4 linked regions of the Homo sapiens genome follow. The protein of the gene in region 1 purifies or fractionates together with the protein of each later gene. This does not show direct contact. Each region holds a gene or a part of one and is shown on either strand. Other genes may lie near its edges.

The links.
Region 2: the proteins of SLC18A2 (region 1) and CLEC16A purify together in Homo sapiens (affinity purification with mass spectrometry; 2 studies listed by BioGRID and IntAct, with this or other methods). This does not show direct contact.
Region 3: the proteins of SLC18A2 (region 1) and HSD17B7 purify together in Homo sapiens (co-immunoprecipitation; 2 studies listed by BioGRID and IntAct, with this or other methods). This does not show direct contact.
Region 4: the proteins of SLC18A2 (region 1) and RAB32 purify together in Homo sapiens (co-immunoprecipitation; 2 studies listed by BioGRID and IntAct, with this or other methods). This does not show direct contact.

The regions. Positions count from the first base shown.
Region 1 is NC_000010.11:117,236,839-117,244,114, reverse strand, and holds the start of SLC18A2 (synaptic vesicular amine transporter), read right to left. Parts: upstream 3,002-7,276; 5' UTR 2,895-3,001; intron 2,455-2,894; exon of another isoform or gene 2,437-2,454; 5' UTR 2,422-2,436; coding exon 2,301-2,421; intron 2,231-2,300; exon of another isoform or gene 2,118-2,230; intron 145-2,117; coding exon 1-144. UniProt on the Homo sapiens protein: Electrogenic antiporter that exchanges one cationic monoamine with two intravesicular protons across the membrane of secretory and synaptic vesicles.
Region 2 is NC_000016.10:10,968,550-10,975,572, reverse strand, and holds part of CLEC16A (protein CLEC16A), read right to left. Parts: intron 6,413-7,023; coding exon 6,264-6,412; intron 4,449-6,263; coding exon 4,343-4,448; intron 3,020-4,342; coding exon 3,014-3,019; intron 2,636-3,013; coding exon 2,512-2,635; intron 1-2,511. UniProt on the Homo sapiens protein: Regulator of mitophagy through the upstream regulation of the RNF41/NRDP1-PRKN pathway. Mitophagy is a selective form of autophagy necessary for mitochondrial quality control.
Region 3 is NC_000001.11:162,785,689-162,793,705, reverse strand, and holds the start of HSD17B7 (3-keto-steroid reductase/17-beta-hydroxysteroid dehydrogenase 7), read right to left. Parts: upstream 3,005-8,017; 5' UTR 2,906-3,004; coding exon 2,871-2,905; intron 1,048-2,870; coding exon 844-1,047; intron 1-843. UniProt on the Homo sapiens protein: Bifunctional enzyme involved in steroid-hormone metabolism and cholesterol biosynthesis. Catalyzes the NADP(H)-dependent reduction of estrogens and androgens and regulates the biological potency of these steroids.
Region 4 is NC_000006.12:146,546,826-146,553,848, forward strand, and holds part of RAB32 (ras-related protein Rab-32), read left to right. Parts: intron 1-2,638; coding exon 2,639-2,916; intron 2,917-7,023. UniProt on the Homo sapiens protein: The small GTPases Rab are key regulators of intracellular membrane trafficking, from the formation of transport vesicles to their fusion with membranes.

The sequences.
Region 1 (7,276 bases):
TGACCATAGTCGAGTTATCATAATAGGAGAAGATGCTCTGGAAGCTGTCTGAGATGGAGGCAGTGTGCACTGGCCTGGCCGTCTGGATTTCTGTAGCATTCTTCTCATGCTTAATGCTGTACAGATAACTTGGGATGATGGGGACTGGGGATAAGAGCAGAATGGCAAGGTGGTGATCACACTGAAACCCTCTCCAGGAAAAAAGCCAGCAAAAAACTATGGTTGTGTCGGCAGGGAGCAGTGGCTCACACCTGTAATTCCAGGACTTTGGGAAGCTGAGGCAGGTGGATCACCTGAGGTCAGGAGTTCGAGACCAGGCTGGCCAACATGGAGAAACCCTCTCTCTACTAAAAATACAAAAATTAGCTGGGCGTGGTGGCACCCACCTGTAATCCCAGCTCCTTTGGAGGCTGAGAAAGGAGGATCGCTTGAACCTGGGAGGTGGAAGTTGCAGTGAGCAAAGATTGCACCACTGCACTCCAGCCTGGGTGACAGAGTGAGACTCTGTCTCAAACAAACAAAACAACAATAACAACAACAAAACTATGGTTGTGTCAAATGCCAGAAGAGGTCCAGAGGGTGACAGGTCTACCCCAAAACAGGAGCCCTGTGCCATATGTCTATAACGACATTGGAGCAAGTTCACTTTACTTAGCTCACTAGAAAGAACCATGCCCCCAACGGCCCTGAGAACTGTCTCCTCTCAAAAGGCAGCTGCTGTGCTGAACTGACTGGTCCCAGAGATTCTGTCATTTGTGGGTTTCTTCCACATTGTTCCTTCAAGGAATATTTCAGAAAAGCAAAATGTGGCCTGACGTTAAGAGAGTGCTGACCTGGAGTCAACCAGTGCTTCTAAGAAAGAGAGGCTCAAAAGACTTTCAAATGAATGAATCAAGGAAACAGAAAACTACACTTCATTATGTGTCTTAGAAAAAAATTAACCTGCAGGAAGTAATAACTTGGAAATTCTGCAACAGGCCCACTTCATCCTTCTATTATGAGTGGGAATCTGTAATTTTTCCTACAACTTGTAAGATTTAAGAATTCCTAAGGCTTTCACAAGGAAAAAGCAAAACTGAAACAGGCCAGGCACGGTGGCTCAGGCCTGTAATCCCAGCATTTTGGGAGGTCGAGGCGGGTAGATCACCTGAGGTCAGGAGTTCAAGACCAGCCTGGCCAACATGGCAAAATCCTGTCTCTAATAAAAATACAAAAATTAGCCAGCTTTGGTGGGGCATGCCGGTAACCCAGCTACTCGGGAGGCTAATGCAGGAGAATCACTTGAACCCGGGAGGTGGAGGTTGCAGTGAGCCAAGACTGTGCCACTGCCCTCCAGCCTGGGCAACAGAGTGAGACTCCATTTCAAAAAAACAAACAAAAACCAAAATAAAAAGCAACAACAAAAAATACAAATTAAATTGTGAAACATATAATCGAAGCTGTGAGCACATGTGTCCAATGGAGCATTCGAGCCGAAGCAGAACTAATGCCGTTGGTACTGAACAGGGATGAGCTCCACGGCTCTGATAACTCCTCGAGATGAAACCTATCAGATGCTCTGAAAACTGCTGTGAGAAAACCTGCAAATGGAGAGAAAGGAAACAGCTCCCACCACTTACAGTCTAAATGAGTCGTGATTTTTTTTTCATTCATTAAAAACTGGGATTTTTTTTTTTAAGGAAATGCATGCCAAATACTTCTCTGTTAATGGGCCTAATTAAGGGACCTGGATTTCGATTATTTAATTTTTCAAAATTCCACTATAGGAAAAATAATAGAACCAAGATTGTTCAAATTGTTCTTGCAATGGTTCCTGAAATATTTCCATCTCAAGTCATTCACTAATACAGTATATCTAAATGTCTTGTTTTTGGAGTAAGGGATCGAAACTTGCTCTTTTAGGTACTACACCAAATTACTAACCTGCCTTTTCGAGTAGCCCAATAATTATTCTAACACGTAATTTTGAACTTTAGGAATTTCTCTTTTGGAACAGAAATCTTTTTCATCGCAGTGAAAGCAGGCAAGAGGATGCGGGAAATTATCAGGGGGAAACATAAGTTCTGGGTCTTATCGGATGTCACAGTTTTTGACCCGAGCATCAGGAAAGCGAAGCCACACAACGCGGCTCCTCCTAGCCCCGGCGCGGCAGCCTGGAGGGGATGTCTTTTTTGCAAAGCGAGTTCTCCAACTTTCCCGGGCCTTGGCGGAGCTCCGGGACCGCGCAGGGGTAAGTGGAGTGCCGGGGAAGGGGCGCTGGGGCTGGGGTGCCGGGGCAGGGGTGCCCTGTCCGCACGTACCCACGACAGTGAGCAGCATGTTGTCCAGCAGCAGCGCCAGGAACACGATGAACAGGATGAGCTTCCGCGAGCGGCGGCTCTCCTGCAGCCAGCGGACCAGCGCCAGCTCGCTCAGGGCCATGGCTCCGGGGCTCCGCTGCGGGCGCGGTGCGCGGTGAGGACCCAAGGCGGCCGTGGACCCCCCATTCTCCCGTCCCCCAGGCCGCGGAAGGGCGGGTCAGGGAGCCGCGCGCACCGGCATCCGGGGACACCCCCGGGCGCCCCAGCCTCGGCTCACCTGCCTCGAGCGCGTCCCCACGAGAGCCCGCGCTCCCTGGAAAGAGCGCCCGCGAGCGCCGTCGGGGACCCAATCTGGAGACCCAACCTAGAACCCCCAGGACGCTGCCCTGATCCCCGCCGCCCCCAACTGTGCCACCTCCCAAACTGCACGCTCGGCCCCGTGCACCTTGCGCCCTGCGCCCTGCGCCCCGGCTGCCCCGGGGTCCCCGCAGCCCCGCCCGCGTAGCTCTGGGGGCCTCCCTGCCTCCCTGCCTCCCCCGGGCCCGCTCCCCTCCGGCACCGCGCCCTGCGAGCAGGGAACCGGGGCCGTGTTACCTCGGGGTCGCTTGCGATGCCTGCCCGGGTCCTCCGTGCCCGCGCCAACGCCCGCACCGCAGTGGGCTCCGTCAGTCCGGGCGGCTCCGGGTCGCAGTCTCCGCCCCAGCGCCCCGCCGCCGCCGCTCAGTTTACCCCGTCCGGCTCTGACGTCACGGCCGGAGGGAGCGGGGGCGGGGGGCTGGGGCGCCCCGGCCTCCGCCCGCCCGCGCCGTCGCTGCGCAGGAGGGGCTGCCGCCTCCCTGTCCCCGCCTCGGCCGCGGCCGCGCCTCTTCCCCGGACCCAGCGCGTGGCCGAGTGCCTTGGGGACCCAGGCCTGGGGAAGAGGCAGGGGCGCAGAGGGAAAGAGGTCAGAGAGCCTGGACGAAGAGTGAAGGGCCAGGGACCAAGGCGAGGAGGCACGGACCAGGGCTTTCTTGTGGCTCCAAGTGGTGGCTCGAGCTGCTTTGAATAAATCACGTGGCTCTTTGAGCCTCAGTGTCCCTGAAATGGGCCGTGAGGACGGGAATGATGGCCGCGGGGTGAGATCGCCAGGGGTGACAGGTGCTGGGAGCCAGGGACAGGCTTCCCTTTCCTGAAGAAGCCACCCTTTGCACCCACCATCCCCTCCCCTCTCCGACCTCTGCAGCCCGATGCGGGGTGCCACTCGGAGGAGCCTTTGAGCCTTGGGCATCCTCAAGCTGGTGACTTGGAAACGGGGGGGGGAAGGGGACACTTTTCAGTGTCGCCCTATGGTGGGAGTTGGGGAGGTGAGGGTCCCAGGTCTCAGAAAGTGGGAGCAGTGGGTTTGGGCCTCTGGGGCCACCTGAGCAGGGGACCCTGGAGGCTAGGTGAGTACACCTGGCCTCAGAGAAAGGGCTAGGGGGCGGGCTGTGGGCGGGGCAGCAGGCCTAGGCCCTGTGTCCTGTACTCTCTCCCCACCATGCTGTGCCTGGGCGTCTGGGTGAGAGGTGGTTCCTAGAGCCAGGGGCCTGCGTGTGGCTGGTGCAGAGCTGTCATCCTCACTGCTAAGGGCTAAGAGCCTGCCTTTGATTTCCAGGTCCCTTTTATAAGCAAAGGAGAAACAAACAGATGCCCTCTGACATCGCTGGAGCTCTGCAGGCCCTCCGAGGGGACCGTGGGAGCAAGAGCTGTTTTCTTGAAAAGCTACCTAGAATAAATGTTACCCTGTCACAGTCTCTTAGCAGAAGAGTGGGCTTGTTTTATTAATGTTAGCTTGTTGACAGCAGGAGGCCACTGAGAACAGCAGTGTGATGTGTGGCTGCCCCCGCTCTCTCCACCTCCCTACTCCCTTGCAGAGACCCCCTGTGCTTCTCATTGCTACCCCATGTGTGAGAAGAGATGGTTGAATAGGTAAGTAGGTCAGGAACATGGGTCTCCAGGATGTCACAGGATGTGCACAACTTAAACATTAAACAGGGAGGACAGAAGGAAAACCACTTAGGAGGAGGAAGCAGATGGCAGAGAGCCGTTTAAGATGGCAGGAGGGTATCACTCAGGGAGTGCCCCAGAGTGCTTGCTCTGGAGTTTCAGAACCCAAGGATGCAGACTCTACCCCAGGGACCACATGGGGACAGAGAGGCATTATGGTAAAGGGTGCCTGCCAGGATGCCCAGGTCCCAGTCTGCTACTTCCTTGACTGGTGGCCTTGGGCTGGTTATGTATCCTCTTTGTGGCTTAGTTTCGCCATCTCTGGAATGGGGATACTCACTGGACCTACTGCAGCGTGGTTGTGAGAATTCCAGGGGAATGCATAGGCAGCTCTTAGCACAGTGCCTGGCACAAAGTGAGAGCTCCGTAAGTGCCGGCCCCTCATTCATGCGCTGAATATGTGTTGAGCTCTTACTACGTGCCAGGCACTATGGTTAATGCTGGGGAGACAGTAAAGCCTAGACAAATCCCTGCTGACATTCTGACCTGATAGCAGCATCATAGCAGTGAACACTGGAAGCCACACCAAACTCCAGCCCAGCCAGCTGGATGTAGATGGCTCCAGGGACAATGCCAGCCCGGCGTTCCCGCCTCCGGATCACTGTCACCACCCCTAGAGCACTATGGCCTATAACAGACTTTTTGTTGAAACCCCCTAAAAAATGTTTAACAATATGTTTGCCTTACACATTTTCAAGTTGGCATCTAAAATGAGTTTTTTAATCATATATTTAAATAGGGTATATTGTATTTATTGACCTTTATGTATAAAATTATTATCTCTCTCTTTTAAATATACCCAAAGGAATTTGTATAAGAATACAAAACTGCCATGTTATACTTAAGAATATAAACAAGTATCCCTTTAACAGTCAAAATATTTACATTGTGTTCTTTACCCCTTTTAAGTATGTTTCCATTCCGTTTTCCAACAGAATTGTATCCTACCCTAATGCTTTTATTGTTTAAATTCTGTATTCATCACCTATCTATTATGTGAACCACAATAAATATGTGAATATGCATTAGCTTTTTAAAATTTTCTACACGTGGACATAAAGATGGCAACAACAGACCCTGGTGGGGACTACTAAAGGGGAAAGGGAGGGAGGGGGGAAAAGGTTGAAAAACTAACTCTTGGGTACTATGCTCACTACCAGGGGGACAGGATCAGTCATACCCCACACCTCAACATCACTCAATATACCAGTGTAACAACCCTGCACATGTACCCCCTGAATCCAAAACAAAAGTTGAAAGTATAAAAAAAAGTTTAGGCACAGTGACTCATGCCTGTAATCCCAGCATTTTGGTAGGCTGAGGTGGGAGGATCTCTTGAGGCCAGGAGTTTGAGACCAGCCTGGGCAAGATAGTGAGACCCTCTACAAAAAAGTTTAAAATTTAGTTGAGCATCGTGGTACACACGTGGGGTCCCAGTTACTTGGAAGGCTGGGGTGGGAGGATCACTTGAGCCCAGGAAGTCAAGGCTGCAGTGAGCCATGATCACACCACTGCACTCTAGCCTGGGCAACAGAGCAAGACCCTGCCTCAAAAATTAATTAATGATTAATTAATAAGGCTCTAAAATTCTCTTTAGGATTATGTGATTATAACAATGATTAATGGTATTTAAGTGATCAAGACATCATACACAAATATGTATTCTGATAAATAATTATTAAACATAAAAAGGAAAATTGTCTTAAAAGTGCATTACTTAAGGGATGGATAGAGAGGGGATTTTTGGAGTCTTGCTGAAAGAGACACCAAAAGTGTCTCTGTTTGGTGCCGAGGATGTTTTTGTGCCTCAGGACACTGTATACAGGAAGGGGGTCAGACTCAGGTTAGATAGGAAGGGAGCCTTTCTTTGCCCAGGGGAAGATGGGAGACTGTGGAGAGGGGAGGCCATGCAGGAGCATGTGCATGTCCCCACCCAGGTCCATATCAGCCAGATAAGCTTTAGAATGGAAGACATGAAAATTGAGGGTCTCAAACGGCTCGGGACATCTTCATATACACTCAGTGTCCTGCCATTCCAGCCTGAAGAGCCTCCACGGCCACTTCTCAAACATCTTAGCCCTCGCCTTCCCCCTCTGGCCACAGTGGTTCCTCTCAGCATTTCTCTGCCCCAGGGCCTTTGCACATTTTCTTTCCGCTTCCTCTTCTTTTCTAGTTATTTCCTCATGGAGGAAAGCATGCTGTCCAGCATCAGACAGGCCCCTCCCTTATAAACCCTCATGAAGGTGTTACTTCTCCTTTTTACTTCACTTCCTCCTTTGAGTAACCCTCAAAGAAACATTACTTCCTCTAGAGTTACTTCCTCTCTAGAGGAAAGTAACTCTCCCTCCTCTCCCTCCACTCACTTGCACCTTTTTTAGACACTGGGGACTGAGGAGGTACAAAGGTGGTACCCGAGTTTACTTTTTCATTACATTTCAATAATTGAGAATGATAATTTCTAAATTCTATTTAGGAAGTAGCCACCTGGGACATAGCAGTTATTTGAAATAGACATTACTGGAGATGCACTAACAGTTTAAGCTGTAGACAGCATCCTAGTGGGGTCTCTTACAAGTTACATGACCTTGGTCATTCTACTTGACCTTTACATACCTGTTTCTTATCTGTCTCTCCAGCAGGATAACAGTCCCTCCCTCCAGCATAGTTATAGAGAGAAAGTGGGATGGGCCTTGCCTAGTGCCTGACATTAGGTGTTCTCTGTTACTGGAAAATGGAAACTGCTGGATACAGGGAAGGTGTAGGTGTTTCCTGGGGGAAAAATCCTCAGGTGCTCCCCCACCAGAGAACTTGGAAACAAGGACAGTACCCTCACCTCCTGGGCATTAAGCTGTGACATTCAAATAATGGGTCAGAGCAGAAACGAACAAAACCATCCCAAGAGACTCAGTGGTTCCTAGCCTAGCCCAACCTGGCGTACTAGTTATCACAGA
Region 2 (7,023 bases), on another chromosome or scaffold:
GCGCCTGAGACCTAGAACATTTATGCACAATGTTTTGCACTTTTCTCCCACTTAATAAGATACTTTGGAACATTTTCTCTAATGGTATATTTAAAGTGCCTCACTTTTTAATACTTTGGTTTAAAAAATATCAAAGTAATATATGCAGCTAGGTTTAAAACTCAAATAGCATTGATAAGCTGATAATGAAAAAGAGCAGCTCCTGGCCCAGACTCGCCTCCTCCACTGTTTTTTTCTTTTCTTTGAGACAGTGTCTTGCTCTGTCACCCAGGCTGGAGTGCAGTGGTGCGATCTCAGCTCACTGCAACCTCCACCTCCTAGGTTCAAGCAATTCTCTTGCCTTGACCTCCCTGGTAGCTGGGATTACAGGGGTGCACTACCATGTCTGGCTAATTTTTGTATTTTTAGTAGAGATGGGGCCAGGCTGGTCTTCAACTCCTGGCCTCAAGTGATCTGCCCGCCTCAGCCTCCCAAAGTGCTGGGATTACAGGTGTGAGCCACCGCACCCAGCCCTCCTCTACTTCTCCTCACTGTCCAGAGGCAGTTACTTGTTTCTGCAGATAGTTCCTCCCATATTTCTAGAAAATCTGCATGGACTCCTATTTTGCAATTGAGCCATTTTAGGTATTATCTATTGACCTCCTGTTATGACAGAACTCTTCCATTCTCTCTGCCCCTTCCCCACAAGTAGTTATCAGTAATTGGGGTTGATGTCATAACATTCCCTGTGGAGCCAAATAGAGGACTATGATTTCATTTCCTTGCTTGTATAACTTTGTTCTTTCTATAGTTAAGTGTCTCATTATGTCTCGCATCCATGACTGTTTAAATCCATAAGGCTTCTAGCTTTCCCAATTGCTCCAATGGGTCTGCCCTGGTCCCTTTAGCATCCTGACCCCATCTAGGTGCACCTCTCACTAGGCCTGGGCAAAGCTGTCACCCTGGAGCAGTGGTTCTCAAGTGAGGGTGAATTTGCCTTAAAGGGGACATTTGGCAATGTCTGGGGACATTTTTGGTTGGTACGACTGGGGAGGGGTGCTACTGGCATCTAGCAGGTAGAGAGGCTGGCGATGTTGCTAAAAATCCTACAACGCACAGGACAGCCCCCCCAACAATGGTGCCCAGTTCAAGAGGTCAATAGAGCCAAGGGAAAGAAATCCTGCTCTGGAACTTCTAATCATCCCTTTGAGGACAAAACCACCATCCTAATCTGTTTTTTAAAAGAGATTTATTGAAGTATAATTCACATTCCATAACATTCAATTATTTAAAGTACACAATGTAATGGTTTTTGGTAGAGTCACATAGTTGCCTGACCATGATCACAGTCAATTTTAGAACACTGTTATCCCCCCTGCAAAAAAAAGCACCTTATGGCTGGGTACAGTGGCTCACACCTGTAATCCTAGCACTTCTGGGAGGCCCAGGTGGGTGGATCATGAGGTCAGGAGTTCAAGACTAGCCTAGCCAACACGGTGAAACCCTGTCTCTACTAAAAATACAAAAATTAGCCAGGCGTGGTGGTGCATGCCTGTAATCCCAGCTACTCCAGAGGCTGAGGCAGAAGAATCACTTGAATCCAGGAGGCAGAGGTGCAGTGAGCCAAGATTGCACCACTGCACTCCAGCCTGGGAGACAGAGCAAGACTCTGTCTCAAAAAAAAAAAAAAAAAAAAAAAAAAAAAAGCAAGCAGCCCCTTACTTGGCCGGATGTATGGCTCATACCTGTAATCCTAGCACTTTGGGAGGCCGAGACAGGAGGATTGCTTGAGCCCAGGAATGCAAGATTGGCCTGGGCAACATGACGAAACCCCATCTCTACTAAAAATCAAAAAAATTAGCTGGGCATGGTGGCACAGGCCTGGTGGTCTTAGCTACCTGGGAGGCTGAGGCAGGAGGAATGCTTAAACCTAGGAGGTCAAGGCTGCAGTGAGCCATGATCACCCCACTGCTCTCCAGCCTGGGTGACAGAGCAATACTCTGTCTCAAAAAAGAAAAAAAAGCCCTATACTCATTAGCAGTTGCTTCCTATGTCCCCACACAACATCCTAGCCCTAGGAAACCACGAATCTACTTTCTGCCCCTATAGATTCACCTATTCTGGGCATTTCACTAGGCATAATGCTTTTGAGGTTCATCTACGCCACACCAAGTGTCAGCACTTCATTCCTTTTTATCGCCAAACACTATTCCATCGTACAGACAGACTACATTTTGTTAATGCATTCATCAGCTGACAGAGCCCCTTGACCTTCTCACCAGCTGCGTAGCAGCCCCATCTATGGCTGTACTGAATTGATTTACCCCGCCTGCTCTGGGAGGCGTCTGAGTTGTTTCCAGCATTTCATTATTACAAATAGGTGAGCAGGACCTTTTACAGTACGGAAGTCCATGCTCTGCCTACACAGAGGTAGGGAAGTGCGGTTCTTGTGTTTATTTTTCCTTGATGAAAACAGAATTCTCCCCTAACCACCCTGTCTATCTACTGAGTGGCCCTGGGGGTGTCACTTACTCCTCATCAGTCTGCACGCAGTCATCGAGTTCGATCACATGGCTCCCAATGAACCAGACCAAATTGGAGAAGTAAGGAACAGCAGTTTTATCTCGGATGTAGTGCAGCATGGCCTGGTTATCCACTGAGAAAATTCACAGAAGAAAAAAAAAGTCAAGCTACCAAAAATAACTTGGGGAAGATTAAAAAAAAAACAAAAACAAAGCAAAACCCAAAAACCACAATGAAAAAGCCCTCTGCTATAATCTGAAATTGTCTGTCTTTCCTGGAAATACTTAAAAATGTTTATCTTATTCATAAAACTATAGTCATCAAGGCAGTTCTTATGATATTTTATACTTAAAAATAAATTAGTTGGGCTAAACATTAATGGTGCATGGGAGAGCCTACTTATCAGTAGCAGACTGAGCTAGACTACACTGAGAATTACACCATTCTCAAGCAAGGTATTTACATATAAGGGTAGATTAAGAAAGCAGAAAACCAGAGGTTAATAACTTACATGACACTGGAATAAGGAACACAGGAATCGTCATTGAAGGAAAAGCAAAAAACAGACAACAGTTAACAGGGTTAGGACCTGGGAAGGTGAGAGAGCTGCTCAGAGGGAGAGAGACTAGGGTGGGAGGCATCTGCACAGAGAGATAAGGTTAGAAGGAGACAGGAGAAAACAGAGCAGGAGGCAGCAGAACCAACTGTGGCTTGGACCAGGGTCACAATCTTACAAGCCTGCCACGTTGGCTAGTTGCCAGAGGTCCAGCGTGTGACCTGGGAGCACGGGCCTTGACCCCAAAGGGGCAGCTGCTTCTGTGCCAGCTGACCCCCCCAACTGCAGGACTGTGGGCCTTGACTAGCCAAATCTACATCTTCAAGGTGCAAATCCAGATTATCATGGAAGATCTCCCAATTTTTAAATACTGGCAACTACACATTTTTTCAAAAACTAAGCCAGTTAAAACATGTCTGATGGCTGGATATGGCCCACAGGTCCTCAGTTTGCGACCCCTGGGTGGGTCCAGTTGGGCTCTTAGAAAGGTTCTTAAATTTAATGTAAGCCCAGTGCTAGGCTGGAGTGAGTCCCTGAGAAGCCCCCACCCTCATTAGGGAGTAATAACATTTTGGCTCATGAAAGTCAAAGCCCTTTCATCCCTGAGAAAATAGTCCCATCTCCACTGTGGTGACTCCGGGGAAAATAACCCAGGAATTAGGCAGAGAACTTCCAAGCATCGCCTTGGAAGGGCAATTCCAGTTCAGGAAACTTGTGGCCAGGCAGCCTTTGTGTCAGTGCAGCGGAGAGTGGGGGAATGGCTTTTTCCCTGGGGCAATGTTTTGGGCATTAAGAACATCTTGAGGGAAAGGAGGAATTGTTAGTGCTGGGCTTTGCAGCCTGTTGGGAATACAACATTGCCCCCTGCTGTTCACAATGTGACATGCTTTTATATATTACTTAAAAGTCAAATTACCCCTTAGCTGTATTAAAGTATATTTCACAAGCCAAGACACAAAAATTTAAATGACACATTAAAAAGACAACTTTGCTTTCTCAAATTCTAAAACATAGCCACTCTGAATCCCACACGTGCCTCTCAGGACATCCTACTTCTATGTAGCAGCATGAGCAAGACTTCGACATGCCTGGAGAAGGCAAGGATTTCCATGAGCGGCCAGCTAAATGCTAGGGGATTCCAAGTTTTTCATGAGAGAAGCTGCCACGGCTCATCATCAATGTGCTCCCTCGTGACAATCGGAGAACTGTACGCACACACACGGGAGTGAGTGCTTGCTGCCAAGTCAGAAATCAGCCGAGACACAAGCCCATGAGGACACTTACCTTTATAGACATTCAAAGTTATGGTTCTTACAGCAATTCTAACCATGCTTTCAGGGTGGTTGAAAAACTTGATGGCTTCTGTGTACAGGGCAAAGTCATTGGTGTGCTAAAACAAAAGAAATAACGAAAACAAATTATAAGCCCATAAGCCAGGCCTGGCCCCACCCCAACTCTCTGAATTCCATCAGAGACTTCAGAAAAAGACAAAAAAAAAAAAAAAAATGTTGCCAATGTGAACCGTAAGTCAGTGGTTCATTCCCAATGGGGCATGTAGAAAGGGACAGGAAGGCAAAGCCATGGAAGAAACAGAAGAGTCCAAGTCCGTGTGGTGGTGCACACCCATAGTACCAGCTACTTGGGAGAGGCTGAGGTGGGAGGTTGGCTTGAGCCCAGGAGTTGGAGGCTGCAGTGAGATGTGATCGTGCCACTGCACGCCAGGCTGGGCAACAGAGCAAGACCCTGTCTCAAAACAAGAAAAAAGAAAAAAGAGCAGTAGTAGTGGTAGTAGTAGTAATCACTGATTGATTGGCTGGGAGTGGTGGCTCATGCCCAGAATCCCAGCACTTTGGGAGGCCAAGGAGGGGGGATTGCTTGAGGTCAGGAGTTTTGAGACCAGCCTGGGCAATGTGACGAGACCTCATCTCTACTTTGAAAATTATAATTAAAAAGAAAATGAGTCCAGATAATGTCAGACCTGGGTTCATTACCCATTCTACCACTTCTAACCTGTGCAATGCAGTATTTCTAAACCTCTGTTTCTACATCTATAACATGGGGATAATAACATCTACTTTATGGTTTCCAGATTAAATGAGATCATTTCTGGTCTTGTGCTTATCCCAGCACCTGACACCTAAGAAGTACTCAGTGGGATGCAGGGAAACATGAGGGGAAGGCTGGTGAGAACCTTCTGAGAAAGTTTTCTTTGGAAGTTAAAAAGGGACACAAGAAGGGAAGTGATCTCATCAGGCATTTTGGCAGTGGCAGCCAACCTGTGACCATGAGGGGTTGAACCTGAGGATGGATGCCAGCTGTATAGTCAGCAGAGCAGCAAGATGGGAAAGCCTGGGTCCTCGCTGATACTGTTGAACCACAGGATGAACCAGCCCCAGCACGACCAGTGCCTGGACCTTTTGGTGTGGGTGATACATTGACCCTATTGTTCAAACCCCTTTTAGGTGTGAGGACAGGAGCAATTTATTTATTTAAGTTGTTCATTTTAATAATTCTCCCAAAGAATGTCAGGGACATTATCTTATCAACAATAGCAACGTCTATGCTTTTAGGGAGCTATGTACATACTGGCACTTTGAAGACATCATCTCATTTAATTTAACCCCTAATAACCCTACAAGATGTATATTCTTATCCCCATTTCTCAGATGAGGAAACTGAGGTTCAGAAAGGGACTGGGACTTCCTTAAGGTGACACAGCAGGGAAGTGACAAAACCAGCCCTGACTGGAGTTCCTGTTTTTCCCACAGGGCAACACTTCCCCAAGACAACATCTGGGCATGTCTCCTCTCTACCAAGTATAAAGCTCTCAGAACAAACTGAATTTTACATTAACAATGGAAAGGCTGGCCAGGTGCTGTGGCTCATGCCTGTAATCCTAACACTTTGGGAGGCCAAGGTAGGAGGATCGCTTGTGCCCCGGAAGTTCAAGGCCAACCTGGGAAACATAGTAAGACCCTGTCTCTACAAAGAATTACATTTTTTTAATAGAAAGGTAACTTATTTAATTAAAAAAATTTTTTAAACATGCCAAAGTCAAAAGTGTTGCCATGAAAATCATAACAAGCATATAAGAGCTTTGTAAACAGACACAAGACCATCCAGATATAAGGCGCTGCCGTAAAAAAAAAAAAAAAAAGCCACGTGTGGCTTTACACCCACACGTGCCCCTCTGGCAATTACTTACCTCATTATAAAAGAAATGGACAGTGTGGTTGTTGAGTTTTAACGAAAGTGTTTTCAGGAACGATATATAATAGGCCATAATCTCCTCATCAGAAAAGTCAAATTTATGAACGATGATAGAATTTACGTAGTTATTTGAGAGCAAATAATCTAGAGGGAGAAAAAAACAAAACAGGTTAACTCATGCTGGAGGAAAGATAAGCCAGGTAACAAGCAGATGACCACGTTAATGTACTTGAATCAGGTAAGCCTCTGGGTTGCTGGGATTAAACACACTAACTGGGAAGAGCTTAACTTTTAACCAGCAAAGAGATCATCTTCAATGTACAGTCACCAGGAAGTTCAAAGGCATCACCAGAGAACAGCCCTTCCCCGCCCTCCCACACCAAATAAAAAAAAGACACTCCAACATTTTCTTTTCATTGATGGCAAAGTGCAACAAAGAGCTGGGAGTAGGGGGAGATTAGCTGGTGTGTGGGCATTTTCACAAACCACCCATGAATGAGGGTAAAAAGCTGCCCCCTTCTGCCATCACAAATCACATCATCAACTCTGAAGGCCACAGTAGGGTTTTTTTCCTCCTTATATAGCAACATGATTGCATAAAGGTCCCTTCCTGCTGAATCCCTACTACATGCCGGCCACTAGGCTGAGTGCTTTACATGACCATTAACCATCACATGATCCTGCTCATTCTTCCCATTTTGCAGATGAGCAAAAACATCTCGGAGATGTTAACTTACCCGTGCACAGAGACAGTC
Region 3 (8,017 bases), on another chromosome or scaffold:
ATGAATTCAAATGTCAAAGGAGTTACCTTAACGTAAGGCAGTGCAACTGATCACACATCAGGATGTACTTACAAATTAGTCTCCATGAAATAATTATGATCATGATTGAGATTGAAAATGTGGTACTGGCCAAGTGCAATGGTTCACACCTGTAATCCCAGCACCAACTGATCGATCACATATCAGGATGTACTCATAACTTAGTCTCCATGAAATAATTATGATCATGACTGAGACTGAAAATGTGGTACTGGCTGGGCGCAATGGCTCACGCCTGTAATCCCAGTACCAACTGATCACACATCAGGATGTACTCATAAATTAGTCTCCATGAAATAATTATGATCATGATTGAGACTGAAAATGTGGTACTGGCCAGGCGCAATGGCTCACGCCTGTAATCCCAGCACTTTGGGAGGCCGAGGCGGGTGGATCACGAGGTCAGGGGTTCGAAACCAGCCTGACCAACATGGTAAAACCCCGTCTCTACTAAAAATACAAAAATTAACCAGGCATGGTGGCGCATGTCTGTAATCCCAGCTACTCAGGAGGTGGAGGCAGGAGAATCACTTGGAACCCAGGAGGTGGAGGTTGAAGTGAGCCGAGATCACGCCATTGCACTCCAGCCTGGGCAACAGAGCAAGACTCCATCTCTTTAAAAAAAAAAAAAAAAAGAAAGAAAACGTGGTACTGAGACACAATGGGTCACCCTATACAGACTTCCTCAACATAACTGCTTACACCGCACCTGTTTCTTTTCAGGTTTTTCTTTCCTCTCTTATTTTATTAAGTGTTATGCTGCACAATCACATGAGAAAAAAAATCCATCAGCAAGAGATATACCTTTGCTTAAGTTCCTTGGAGGCCCGGAAGACCGACTGCAGGTTGCTGACATCCACCTGGACAATGGTGACCTCAGCAGTGGGGTGAGAGGCCAGCAGAGCAGCACAGACAGCTTCTGCCTTGCTCATGTTCCTGCACGCCAAACACAGATGAAGCTCATCATCTTCCGCCAGCAGCCGCTTGCAGAGGGCCAGGCCAATGCCACTGGGAGGACAATTCAGACACAAGATGTGGGTTATCTGGGATGGCATCAGGTACAGGCATTTCTCTCTGGTTCAGAAAACTGTGTCAAGTTGACCTCCAATGAGAAGCCCAGATAGAAAGAAAAGACTCAACAATTATTTAAGAAGGGAGGAATCCTACACTCCAATAGTCACTTGCTTGAGACACAGCCTAGTTTGTGTTTTTCTCATTTTGAAAAACTTCAATGACAAAATAACTGGACTGAAAACAAGAATTGTTCTTTAGTTTTTCTACTACTGGGCTTTATCCTGCCAGTGGTTTTCATTTTGTACCTATTATGTCACTCATGAAAATGATTTAATATATCACCAGTAAGGGCTCAAAAGAGCATCTTATTAGCTGTTTCCTATGTGCATTTTGACTTTGCTGTCTAGGCTCCTCAGGGGCAAGGGCTCTACCACCTACTGGTATCGTAAACACCATAAGGAGCACCAGAAATCTCTGATAAAGGAACAGATGAATCTTTCAGGATGAGGCATCAGTAACATGGCAGGATGTACAAATCCCTCTCAACAACTATGATTAAATAATAGAAAAAGAAAGAACTCAACATGATTAAGTAGAAGGTAGGAATACACTAAATATTAGATGAGTACACCACTTGGAAACAAAGAACTTCAAAACCAGCATTGTAAAACCGCATAGGAGTGGTGACAGCAGTCAGACCAGCCTGGCTGATAGCAATGAAAAGCTGGGTAATAAGTTCTCTTTCAAGACTTAAGCTGATTCCAGGCAAATATGTTAATAGTTAAAACCCAAAAAGAGCCTGGAACCATCAGTAATCTATTAGCACCAACAACAAAGCATCAAAAATATTTATTTGTCCTCACATGAGAACAGTAGGCATTTAATATACAATTGCACATGTCACAATATATGTAAAAGAAACAGACAAAATCAATTCTGACTTACTCAGTACCTTCCACATAAGAAGCACCAATCAACGGTTAAAGTCACTTGAGAGGGTATGCTAAAAAGTTGCCAAATGCAGACACCTACCAAGCTGGCTTAGTTAATACGCATGTGGTTAAATAATTGAAAGTGGATCAATCTTAAATGTTTAACATGTCCTCTGTCTTAATCATTTAAAAATGCCAAATGCAACTAGTAGAAAAATGGTTTGATTGGCTTCATCCTCCACACATTTTTCACAGAAGTGCAAATGACAGGTAAAACAAGCAACAGAAGAGGCTGAGAGACTAAACGAGCAACCCTGGAATTATTATGAGCTGGTTATTCTGCACCCCAACCATGCCTTCATAGGAAAAGATTAATTTTCTCTGGGTTTCTGAAGAGTATGTTAGCTCTCTAGCACTGAGCTAAATGAAACGGGATTGTTTTCTCTCCACCGTCCTAATGTTCATGGGTGTTCAAATTTGTAGGCAAAAGGCTTGTACAGACAAAACACCTGGAGTATAAGACATGATCACGTGGTCAGGAGCAAAATATTGGGCACTGACGATAAATACGAACAGTAGGCAAAGATGGAAAAGGGGCGGAGCCCGCCTGAGTACCCCATTGCCTTGATAACCTCAGGATCATCACTGCGACACTCATCACTTACTGATGCTCTAGTTTTCCTTTTCACTGTCATGTTTAATACAAAGCACCAGTTACTGAGCACCTCAAGAGGCCGACATGCCCCACACCTGCTGCAGACTCCGGGGAACCTAGGCAAAGCCAGGGGCGGGCGCTTCCGGGGTCCGTTCGTGGAGGGTCGCAGACCCCTGCTCTCTCGGACCCCTGATCCGCTGCCGCCTCTGCCAACCCAAAGGAGGCCTCACCTGCTAGCCCCGGTGATCAAAACCACCTTTCGCATCTTCGCGCACTCACACTTCCAAGCAGTGAAGCAAACACCGCCGCTGCTTTCGGAAGTCCTACGATTTCGGGCCGCCTCACCCGTCACCAATCAGAGTACGGCCACGCCCCGCCTCCCGTTGCGTCATCGAGTCTGAGCTGATCCCTCCAATCTCAGTCCGCCAACCGTTCCCTGCCCTCGGAGACGGCGTCGGGTGAGATAGGCCGAGGGGCGGAGCTGCGTGACGCAAAGCCCGGAGCCATTCCAGGCTCTTCTCGCTCCGCCTAGGCGCAGGTGTCTGTCACTGCTTCCTAGGGCTCAGCGGGCGCCTGATCTTTAATCCTGGTGGGGGCGTCACCCGGCCTAGCACTCAGGACAGGATCTGTGACACGCACTGGGTCTGTGCCCTGGCGCCTGAGATTGGCACTTCTTTGCAGGAAGGCCTCACGGTATTTGCACCAGTGCCCATTTTAGAGAAAAGGTTTGGGTCTAGGAGCCAAAGTTGGGCGATTATCATCTAATTTTCCACTCCTTTTTGGATGTACAGATCCAGGCATTGTGCCACTTCACAGCCCAACTTTTGATCCCAGACCTCCTCCTCTAAAGAAGCTTATTTGAGAAAATGAGCACTGATTTTATTAAGAACTTTATGTAGAATCAGACGTAAATTACCAGTATTCAAAACTTGGAATGTGGCGTGGAATCAGAATCTCAGAACTTCATTCTCCGAAGTACTGAGAATGTGCTGTAACCTTCTGTATCAGTGCATCTCAAACTGTGCTAAAGGACCTGTTTTTGTCTCCAAGCCATCCCAGATGGGTGCTTTTAGAAAATACAAAAAAATAAAGTGCTAGAAAAAGAAAAGCAAAAGGCATACAAAACACAAGCCCCGATATTTTATTATTAGATCCAAGACATATAAAAGTACTCTGCCAAAATGAGGCAGAATAGGGTTTGGAGGCAGGGTACTTAAGGCCACTTCGTGCTGACTTCCTAAAGCTCAATCAAGGAAAAACAGCAAGGGCTGGAAGTAGGGAATCTGAGACCAATTGGTGCTGGCTTCCCAAAGCTGGATCAAAAGGAAAACACCTGGGTCTGGGGGCCGAGAGCCTAGGGTCAATTAACACCAACTTCCTAAAGCTAAACCAGAAGGAAAAACCCCATCTCCCCACTCCCCAGTAGCAAAGGATCAAAGGCTACTCTCCCTACAACCTTCTGTTCTCAGACCAAACTGAGGGTTGGGCTGCTATTTTTCAAGGCCCAATAACGAGATGCAGATGAGCTGGGGAGGAAGAGAGTTTTTATTTCTGTAACCGGTTGCAGGGAGAAGGCCTGGAAATTATCACCAGACCAACTCAAAATTACAGTTTTTCAGAGCTTATATGCCTTCTAAGCGAACTGTCTATGTGTAAGTGTGCATTTATCTAAAGACATAAGTGATTAACTTCTTTTAATCTGTAACTAAGGTCTGAGTCCTGAAAACCTTCCTCTGGAGCCTCAGTAAATTTACTTAACCTAAATGGGTCCAGGTGCTGGGGTGATTGCCCTTGTATTCTCTCCTGCTAAGTGGTGGAGGTTTGAGGAGTTCTCTTAGACCCCCCAATAAACTTGTTTGTGGAGGCCTGGGGAGTTTCTTCAGACCACAATAAAACTTGTTTAATCCTAAAGGGGTCCGGTTAAGAATTCTTTCTTTATTTTGTATGCTTTAAGAGGCCCAGGAAAGGCCTAGGCAAAATTCTTGATGGGCTTTTGTTACATCCCAGCCTTTGTATAAGGGCACTGGCTTTTAATATTTAACCACTTAGTACTGAAACAGTTGTTAGTGAGACCTGGCCTGCCACACTTCCACCATGTCTCAGATGGAAAGGGAAAGTGCCTTGGATTGGCTGTGGGCCAAGCACTAAGCATGGGCCATGCCATCATCTGCATAGGGCACAAATTCACCTCAGCCTTTACTTAGCCATAAACCAAATCCTTCATCCAGATAAGGGGTAGCCCATAGGGACCTCAAAAGAACTACTTAAAACCCAGAAAACTTTGTAACTGGGCCCTTGAGCCACTTGCTCAGGCCCACTCCCACCCTGTGGAGTGCTTTCTCAGTTTAATAAATCCCTGCTTTTGCTTTCGCAGCTTCATTCCTTTGTTACTTTGTGCATTTTGTCCAACTTTTCGTTCCAAATGGCCAAAAACCTGGACGACTCACACTCAAGGCCCTCCTTCCAGTGACAAAACTGCTATAAAGGTTTCTAATGCTTACTCTAGGTTTCTGTATTTGTAGTAGACTGGTAATGGGACCATCACTAGCCCCAGCTCATGCAGAATAAAACTGTGTATCATACATCAAACGCTACTGAACATACTTTATTTAATGGCCTCTTTCAGTGTTTTAATTATTTATGAACAGCAATGATCCATAAAACACTGAGATAATTTATATTGGCTTTTGATTCTAGAGGTTTTGATTAATGATACCAACTTACTTAGTAATCATTTATCCTATATCAATAAAATTAGATTGAAAGAACAAATCTGGTTATTAGAACATTAGATTCCTAAATAAAATTTTTTTTTTTTTTTTTTTTTTTTAGACAGAGTCTCACTCTGTCAGCAGGCTGCAGTGCAGTGGCGCAATCTCGGCTCACTGTAACCTCCGCCTCCCGGGTTCAAGCAATTCTCCTGCCTCAGCCTCCCGAGTAGCTGGGACTACAGGCACACACCACCACACTCAGCTAATTTTTGTGTGTGTATATATGTATGTGTATATATATATATATATATATATTTTTTTTTTTTTTTTAGTAGAGGTGGGGTTTCATCGTGTTGGCCAGGCTGGTCTTGAACTCCTGAGCTCAAGTGATCTGCCTGCCTCGGCCTCCCAAAGTGTTGGGATTACCGGCATGAGCCACCGCGCCCGGCCAATAAAATTTCTTTATCATGGGGGTGGAACTCAGCTCCTACGCTTATCCCACTTTCAACTGTTCTAAAGAGACCACAATTTAACAACATTTTCTGAAAGTCATGGAGTAAAATTAAGCCTAATTGTGAGAGTCTAGACCCAAAGACTCATTTTAAAATGTTCTAGAGCTCAGAGGTGATAAGGAATAAGAAGAAGACCTGGTTGTGTGGCTGTCCCATAAAAAAATCATTTCTATAAAGAAGGGAGAGGGCCTGGGCTGTGGAGGCTCAGCATTACCGCAGTCTCGGGATGACCGCCAGCCTAAGACAGACTGAATTAAGTGAAGTCCAGACAGCTTCAGAGCAAGACCGTCTGTCTCTCCTTTCCCCAAGATTTTCATTCAAGCCAAGTGATGAAACTGCTCTCTTCTTCCTTTTTCTGCACTAAAGTTGCTGCTTTCAAGGTGTTATGACTTTTGAAAGATGGGCTGAACTGCTAGAGGTGCTCAGAGAGACTAGAATAGAGTTCAAAATAGATGCCATTTAATTTTATATTTTACAAATATTTTATCACTCATAGGACACAGCTTGATAACCATCATAATATGTTTTTATTGATGAGTGAATGGATAGGTGTGTTTTTTTTAATCATCATAAGTTTATGTTTTGCATGGGCTCATTCTGTTCTCCTGGAAATCAGAAGAACAATAGGGTACACAATGATCCCATCTATCCCTGCCAAACCTTGGCCCTGTGATTTATCTACCATACCCCATGCTGAAAAATGTGCTCAGAAAACTCACATATTCTGAGAAATATTCTCAGAAAACTAAAAGTATAAACTTATTCTCAGAGACCAGGTAAGAAATGGGTTGTTTGGGGTCGTTTCATTCTAATCTCTAGTATAATGACTGAGTCTAAATTCTGGTTTTCATAGTTTTTTTTGGTTTGTGCATGTGCAGGTAGTCTGAGACAGACTATATTTGGATTTAAAAAGGATTTCTGTGTATCAAACAAGACAAGTCTGTAACCATAACGATAAGGGATCACCAGTTAATTCTAGACTGGATTCCCCAGAACTGGACTAATTAATGTGAGGACGTAAAATCCCAGTGTCTCGTATGTTTGGATATGTCAGAGACCAAGATGCTTTCTTCCCAATAAACAGTCAACTCATATGTTAGAGGTCTATTTAAATAATCCTTTGCTGGAAAGCCCCACAAACAGGTGTCCATACCACATACACCCCAGCTCTGGGCCCATGCCCCATCACTTCCCCAGGAATGAAAGACTATAAAGAGCAAAGGTTACAAAGCCCAGAACTGGCACTGTTTATACAGAAAGGGAGATCCATCAGTAGCATGACTCTTTAATCATTGTTATTTACAATTTATCATCTGACAGACTTACAGAGAATAAATAAAGAAAAGAAAATATACAATTGGTATCACGTTTCTTTTTCTAATACAGAGAAATTTTACATATTCTATTTGGAACGTCTATGATAGTTTTAAGCAGAAATTAAATCCATTTGCCCTTTACCCCTTGACAAGACACATCATCTTCCAAAGCCTGCAGAAGGGGGCCCAGATGTTTCCTCATCACAGGAAGAGTGCACCACATCGCTGCAGAAACTCAGTCCTCAGAAAAAGTTACCAGGCAACAAGGTAGAAGAATAGGATATCATGAATAATAAAGGACATATAATGGATAGGCTAGATTACAGACTCTTGGTGTGTTTGCAGGAAGCCAGCTTTCAATTGTGTCCAAGCCTGTTTTCAAGAAAACAGTTTTTCACTGAAAGTGATTACCTTATCCCATTGTGCTTCCCTTGAGTCTCTGCAAATTCTTCCTTGACATGTTCATTGTGATTGTGGATGAGCACAGGCTAGCTTGGGACTCAGATTATTTTCCTGCAAGGCACCTGACACTGTTGCATGTTGTTGACAAGGTGTCTGCAGGAGAAACTAGATAGCTTGTTTCAAATAGGCTGGGTATGAGGCCAGAGTCTGGTCTCTCCTTTTGATTCGGTGTCCTGTGGAGAACTACCTTTCATTGCTGTCTAAATGCCTCAAAAAATTAAGCAGTTCTATAGATCAATTTCTCCATCAAAAAGTATACAAACAGAGAATGCACTTCACCAGGAACAAGTCTGAGTAATTTTTTTCTCTTTCCTCACTTGAAAATAAACTCTCCATGTTACAAGCAAAACAATTCTCCCTACATTCACTCTAGTTA
Region 4 (7,023 bases), on another chromosome or scaffold:
AGGTAGTGAAGAAATTATGACGAATCTCTATGCTTGAAAGCTGTGGCAAGTATGATAGGCTAGAATTATCAAATGTTTTCTACACATGTAGCTAAGCAGATTCAGCTGAACTCTTCAGGTTAAGAACCACTGTGATCCTCAGATACACAAATCTGTTCTTACGGCATTGAAGGAATCTGGCTTTAAAATACAGATGCAGTTTAGTGCAGTTTTTGTGTTAGACAATTGCCATCTCTTAACTCACACGTACTTTAGGACTGCTGCTCAAAACATAACTGAAATATACTAAAATCTTGAAGTCTTTGATAACACTTTACAGAGATCTTAATAAATGCATACTCAAGATATAGCAAGAGATGTCTCTGATCTTCCTTTTAATGCTCAGTGTAGGTAAAGTAGTATTTGGTTTACTATTATATGCTTATTGCTTATTAGTCACTATAGCATTTTTCAGGCAAATTGAAAGACTGGTCTAGGTTAAATCTTAAAAAAACAAGTTTGTCCATTTAGGTCTAGTATACTTTAGCCTTCATGTATTGACTGAGTGATTTGCTTTTTAGGATCAACATTTTTTAATAAAAATCTGAATGAGTAACTCTCCTTTGGGCCAAAGGACAAATTGGGAACAGTCTGCTCTGAAGTTCATATAAATAATATTTACCCAAGCATAAAATGTGTGCTTGGAAGATATAAACTATATAATTTATGCCTAAACTTATTTTACATTGTTTTGATTCCCATCCAAAATAGAATGTGGATCCTGATTGCCTTGCTGCATCTTATACTTTGTCGATTAGTATACCTAGTAATATCCCTTTGTCTTTTTTTTCACAACTCTCCTATCATCTTTCATGAGCACGAGTAAAAGGAAATACTTGAAATTTACAGATGATTCACAAAAAAAAAAAAAAAAAAGCAACAGTCACTAAAGTTTAACAACTCTTTGTTAACTTCTAGGTTTCTAACTGTTCTTTTACTCATTTGTCACCCCACTCTCTTTTCTAAATTAAAGATATAGTCCAAAGGAATAGTTTATTACCATGTAATTATCTTGAAATCTTACTTTTTCAATTTCCTAATTTAAGACTGTCATATCTTGTTGCTTAGTCTTTTCATATTCAATAATTAAAATATATAAAAATGGAAGTGGTTGGTAATGTGTGCACTGCATTTGAAATTGGAGTCTGAATCATTTCAATGCATATAGTCTTTCTGCAGAATAGCGATTTTGAACAGTTGGCATATCATGTAAGTTTTTATAAATGTCAGCATTATGAGCCAATGAACTATATAATGGTCAGATTTACATCACAATAAAATATGAGCATAATAGTAGGGTTTCATATGTGACCATTTGTTACAGTAAAATTTAGACCTTTGGACTATTACAGTACAGCTTCAGTTAAACCATATGAGGAGTCATCACAAAACAAACCTTAAATTTATGCATTCACGTTTGACCATTGTTTTATTCTTCTTCCATTATTCCCTAAAACAATATATAAAATTATATTGCATTGTAGAGTTTGGAGAAGGAAGAATTTTATATTTTGGGGTATCTTTGCATCTGTGCAGAGAAAATGTGTCAATAAAATGTAGATAAAGCCTGTTGCTCATGTGTTTCAAGAAGAAAGTGTCTTTATCATAGAACAGAGTGATACATCTTAGATGTGCATTGATTGCCAATCATTTTTCCTTCACACTGTAGTCAGTAACTAAGTCAAGGCAACTGCAAGATAGTTCAGAAAGGCTAGCATCCCACTTCTATAGGTGTGTGGGAGTCAGAAGACCTGGATTCTAGTCCTGTCTTCTTTAGTCAGTGCCACTATAATCCTGGCCAAGCATCCATTTTCCTGTTGTTACATCTGTCAGATGAAAAGAAGGGTCTTTCCTATGCCAAAGATTAGTACAATAGCAGATAGTAAGAGAACGCTTTGCAAAGTCCTATATAATGTACAAAGCAGATTTTTCCCAAAGTGTTTGACATAAATTATTTTAAAAGTACAATGACATTTGAAGAACCCTGGAATTGATTCTTCTTGTAACAACACAACCAGTTGTGCCTTTTGTTCTGAAACAGATTTTCATGTATCTACTACTTACAGGGGTGAAATCTTGCATATTGAGTCAGAAGTGGGTATGGGCTAGAGATATGAAGGAGAGATGAGTTGAGAACATGAACTACTTTATCTCATGTCCAGCCCTAATCTATTTGACTAGCATGTTACCCACTGCACTTATCTCCTTCCTGCAGGCTTCATTTCTTCTATTCTTGTCTCTTCTTCCTCTACTTCCAGCTTTATGTTTTCCTTTAGTGCCTCTCTTCTCTTAGACTAAGGGGAGACGAGTCGGAATAAATGACAGACTTTGTAGCTTTAAATATTGTCATATTGGTTTTTATGGAGAATATGTTGTACAGAACATAAAACTAATTCATTATGTACTTAAACCAAATTATCAGACACATCTGCTCTATGGGTCATGGTCTGTATGGATAGCCTTAATCACACCAGGTTATATTGCTGTGGAATGGAAGACATTTGTTCATAGTGTTGCTCTTGGGGTAAAAGGGGTTATACCTAAATGTAGACTCTGTCTGAATTACAAGTTTTTAATTTTTTCTTATATTTATGTCTAGGGCAGGAGCGATTTGGCAACATGACCCGAGTATACTACAAGGAAGCTGTTGGTGCTTTTGTAGTCTTTGATATATCAAGAAGTTCCACATTTGAGGCAGTCTTAAAATGGAAAAGTGATCTGGATAGTAAAGTTCATCTTCCAAATGGCAGCCCTATCCCTGCTGTCCTCTTGGCTAACAAATGTGACCAGAACAAGGACAGTAGCCAGAGTCCTTCCCAGGTGGACCAATTCTGCAAAGAACATGGCTTTGCCGGATGGTTTGAAACCTCTGCAAAGGTGAGATCTGCTTTGCTTATGCATCTTTTGCTTTCTAGCTCATAATTCTGAGCTGTAAATGTAAAGTATTTAGATATATTTATGTGAGTGGTGTTTGAAAGTCTGGAAAATGAGAAGTGTAGCATGGATGTGTTATAGCTTCTTTCAGTCCACAACAGGACTGCTTTCCAAATTGGCTAATGGCTAATAGAAGGGCAGATTTTCCATCAAAACAAAAAGAATTATTTAGGGCAAAAAGCAAATGACATTTTCTGTGAGTTTGAGTTTTTAACTGAGGTACTTCTCATGCAACTAGAGTGGTTGGGGGTATTGTCAAGCACGAGAATTTTTGGTTTTTACAAAAGGCTAAGTGAATAGGAAGATGCCTCTGGTGAAGATGTGTGTCACATGCAGGACCATGTGAAAAGATCAGAGAGGAGATTTATTCAGATGATGTTTGAAGAGTTTTAGGTTAACTGTGTACGAAAGATTTGAAACAGCCAGAAAGTATCAACATTTGTGGTATGCTTCATAAACAGTAGAGTGAGAATTTTTTCTTTTGTCTATTATGGAAAGCTGAATAAAATATTTTCTGAAGGAAAAAATAAAACACTCAGTTGACTTTCAAAAATCTTAACAGTCTAGTGACCAGGCACGGTGGCTCATGCCTGTAATCCTAGCAGTCTGGGAGGCCGAGGCAGATGGATCGGGCAGATCGCTTGAACTGGGAGTTCGAGACCAGCCTGGGCAACGTGGCGAAACCCTGTCTCTGCCAAAAATACACAAAGTAGCTGAGCATGGTGGTGCATGCCTGTGGTCCTAGCTTCTCGGGAGGCTAAGGCAGGAGGATCACTTGAGTCTGGGAGGCAGAGGTTGCAGTGAGCCGAGATCATGCCACTGCACTCCAGCCTGGGTGACAAAGTGAGACCCCATCTCAAAAAAAAAAAAATCTTAATAGTCTAGATATAGAAAAAAGGTGAAAATTATACATATATAAAATGTTTGGGGGGGGGGTTACGTGCATTGGAACTTTCACATAAGGGGGTTAGTGACAATCAGATTTATGTAAGAATGATGAAATGTTTGAAAAATTCTGTGATGACAGATAAACATTATACCATAAATTTGTTGAAATCATAACACAGTTCTAGCTTTTAGTTTATGTTCTGTGGATTTCTTGTGTGTGTTTACGGGTGTTTTTATATATGTATGTATGTATGATTGTTCCTCCAAATCACCCACCTCATTCTGGATATTTACTAATCAGATTAGGTTTAGCTCTACTAGAAACTTACCCTTAGAGTGAAAAACTACTTGATGCCAATGATGATCTGCGGGATAAAAGCGAAGCAATGAGAGACTGCACAAAAGGAGACCGCTCCAAAAATATTGCGCAATGATGGAGTCACTGGGAAAAAAAAGACTGTCTACTGCAGGCAGAAATGTACACTCCTAAGCTAGAGGCTAATTGTTTGAATAAATATAGCATCTTAAAATTTCCTTTCATAAATAAAACATAGTGATAGAAGAAAGATGAAGCCCAGGAGTGCTATGTGAGCACTTAATCTGACACGAAGGAGAAAATCACAGAAAGAAAGCCTTCTTATAGAGAAGTCACCTCATTCTCCCAAGAAGCTAGGACCACAGGCATGTGCCACCATGCCCAGCTACTTTTTGCATTTTTAGTAGAGACAGAATTTTGCCGTGTTGCCCAGGCTGGACTCAAACTCCTGAGCTGGAGTGATCTGCCTGCCTCAGCCTCCCAAAGCACTAGGATTACAGGCGTGTTCTTCTGGACACTCATGCCCTCTGTCTGCTCTGTATGCCTATTGGGTGATTTGCTCTACTTGCCAGCTTTGCTGTAAAAAGACGAAAAAAAAAAAAGGGGCAGTAAGTATAACTGCTTATGCGAGTGTGCATTTTGGTGGAGGAGTTTTATAAATGATAGACAAAATTCCCCTTTAGGCTCTATTTAATCTTTCAGATAGTAAATCCAGATTTGCCCCCAGATGTAAGACGTCATGTGACTAGTAGCTTGTGACTGTGTAAGTCATCGGTTTCACTTTATGTATGGATAGGATTACACGCAGAGGTGAAAGGTGAAACGCTGGTTAAGAGTACAAGTTTCAAGTTTGCTCTGTGCTTCCATACAAATATAATAGAAGCAGCTTCTGTAGAATTTCCTTAGCAGTAAACCAGACGTGTTCCAAGAGAATAACAGTAATAAAAAAATTTAGGTTAAAAATCTTAGAGTTAAGGCTTAAAGTACTGCCTAAATGTCACTAAGGTACACTTCTGAGCTGGCCTGCAGCTAACTTCAGATCTGACTTTTGCTTGAATTGCAGTCATCCGAATTTCACTAGGAACATAGGCAAAAGATAACTTTTGCAAATAAATTTCATCATTTCACCTTTATGGCAAATAATGGATTTCTAATATGAAACTTTAATAATATTAACATATGGGAATTACATTAACATGTGACTAGTTACACTATCATTGGAATTTTAACCAACTGCTTCCAAATACAGTTAGAGAATTTTATAATTATTTGATATAATGGGGATAGCTGGGACTGAATGTCACTTGGACATTCAAAAGATCAATACTTGAATTAAAGTTAACACTTATCTTGGGAGTGGAGGTAAAAAATAAATAAAAAGCTTGTTTCAGTGCTATGAAAGATGCCTGTAAATAGCACAGCTGTTTTAGGTTTCTTGTTGTCTGAGAAAGGGTTTACAAATAAGGAAAAAGGCTACAATGAACCTCATAGCATTGGATTGGATTAGACATTAATATGAGCTTCAGGTTTCATATGTGTGTGTGTGTAAGAGTATATGCATATATATATGTGAGTGTGTATAGATATATGTATGTACACACACATATGTGTAAACAGATAAAGAAGTTGATACAGATGCATGTGTGTATACATACGTTTATTTACTAGCCATACCTGCTGAGAGGGCTTAAAAGGAATGACACCACAGAACCAATTAACTTACCTCGTGCTCAAAATTCGGTTTTTAAATATCATTCTCCAGTAAAAAGAATGGGAATCTCTAGAGAAATGCCTGATTTTAGGACGGGTGGAACAAGTCAAGTAAAGATGTGCCTGAGATATTTTGTTGTGCAAGAAACTAAGGAAATGCTTACAAAATGATGGGGACATGTGACAAAGATACAGGATACTGCCATACAAGCTCCAAACATGTAAGACAATTTGAGCAACAAACTAAATAATTACTGTAATGGGTTCAACTTATAGAGTAAACTAATAATCCATGATAAAAATGAACAAATGAATAAAGAAATGGGGGAGAAGGGAACCTCTTTCTTTTTTTATTTTTATTTTTTTATTATACTTTTAAGTTTTAGGGTACATGTGCACAACGTGCAGGTTAGTCACGTATGTATACATGTGTGGAACCTCTTTCTAACAGTAGAATTCCAGCTAATAAATGTAGAAGGAATGGCAGAAATAAAAAAGTCACCATTAAACACCACAGTGATGATTGTTGTAGGGAGGAATTAATTGATGATAACATTAGTGGGGAAAAGTGCGGTGAGAAACAGGATATTTACATATTTGCACTAAGTACAAAGGGAAAAATAATAACTTTTCTGTGGAGAAACATGGCAAAAACAACTTGAAGCAGTGTGCTTCCTGATAAACTGTGCAGGGTACATCACTTGTGTTTTATTTCTGCCAAAAATACATACGTTGAATTTAATGATAAGGAAACATCGAACATCACAGATGGAGGTATATTCACCGGCCAGTGCTCTCTGAGAGTGTCAAGGTCATGAAAAGCAAGGAGAGTGAGGAACTGTTCGAGAGTAAAAGAGACCAGGGCGACAACAGTGAAATATAGCTTATGATCCTGGATCTGAAATAGGGCATTGAGATAATTGATGCAATTTGAGTAAGCTTTTTAGGCTAGCACTGATACAACACTATTATGTAATTTCCTGATTTTGATAGTTGTATTCTGGTTATCTAAGATGTTAACATTTGAGAAATATGTGTGAATGGTAGGAATGTTTACTTTTTTTGCAATGTTTTTGTAAATCCAAAATTATTTAAAAATGAACAGTTAAATATATTTAAAAATAAGCACAGTTTTT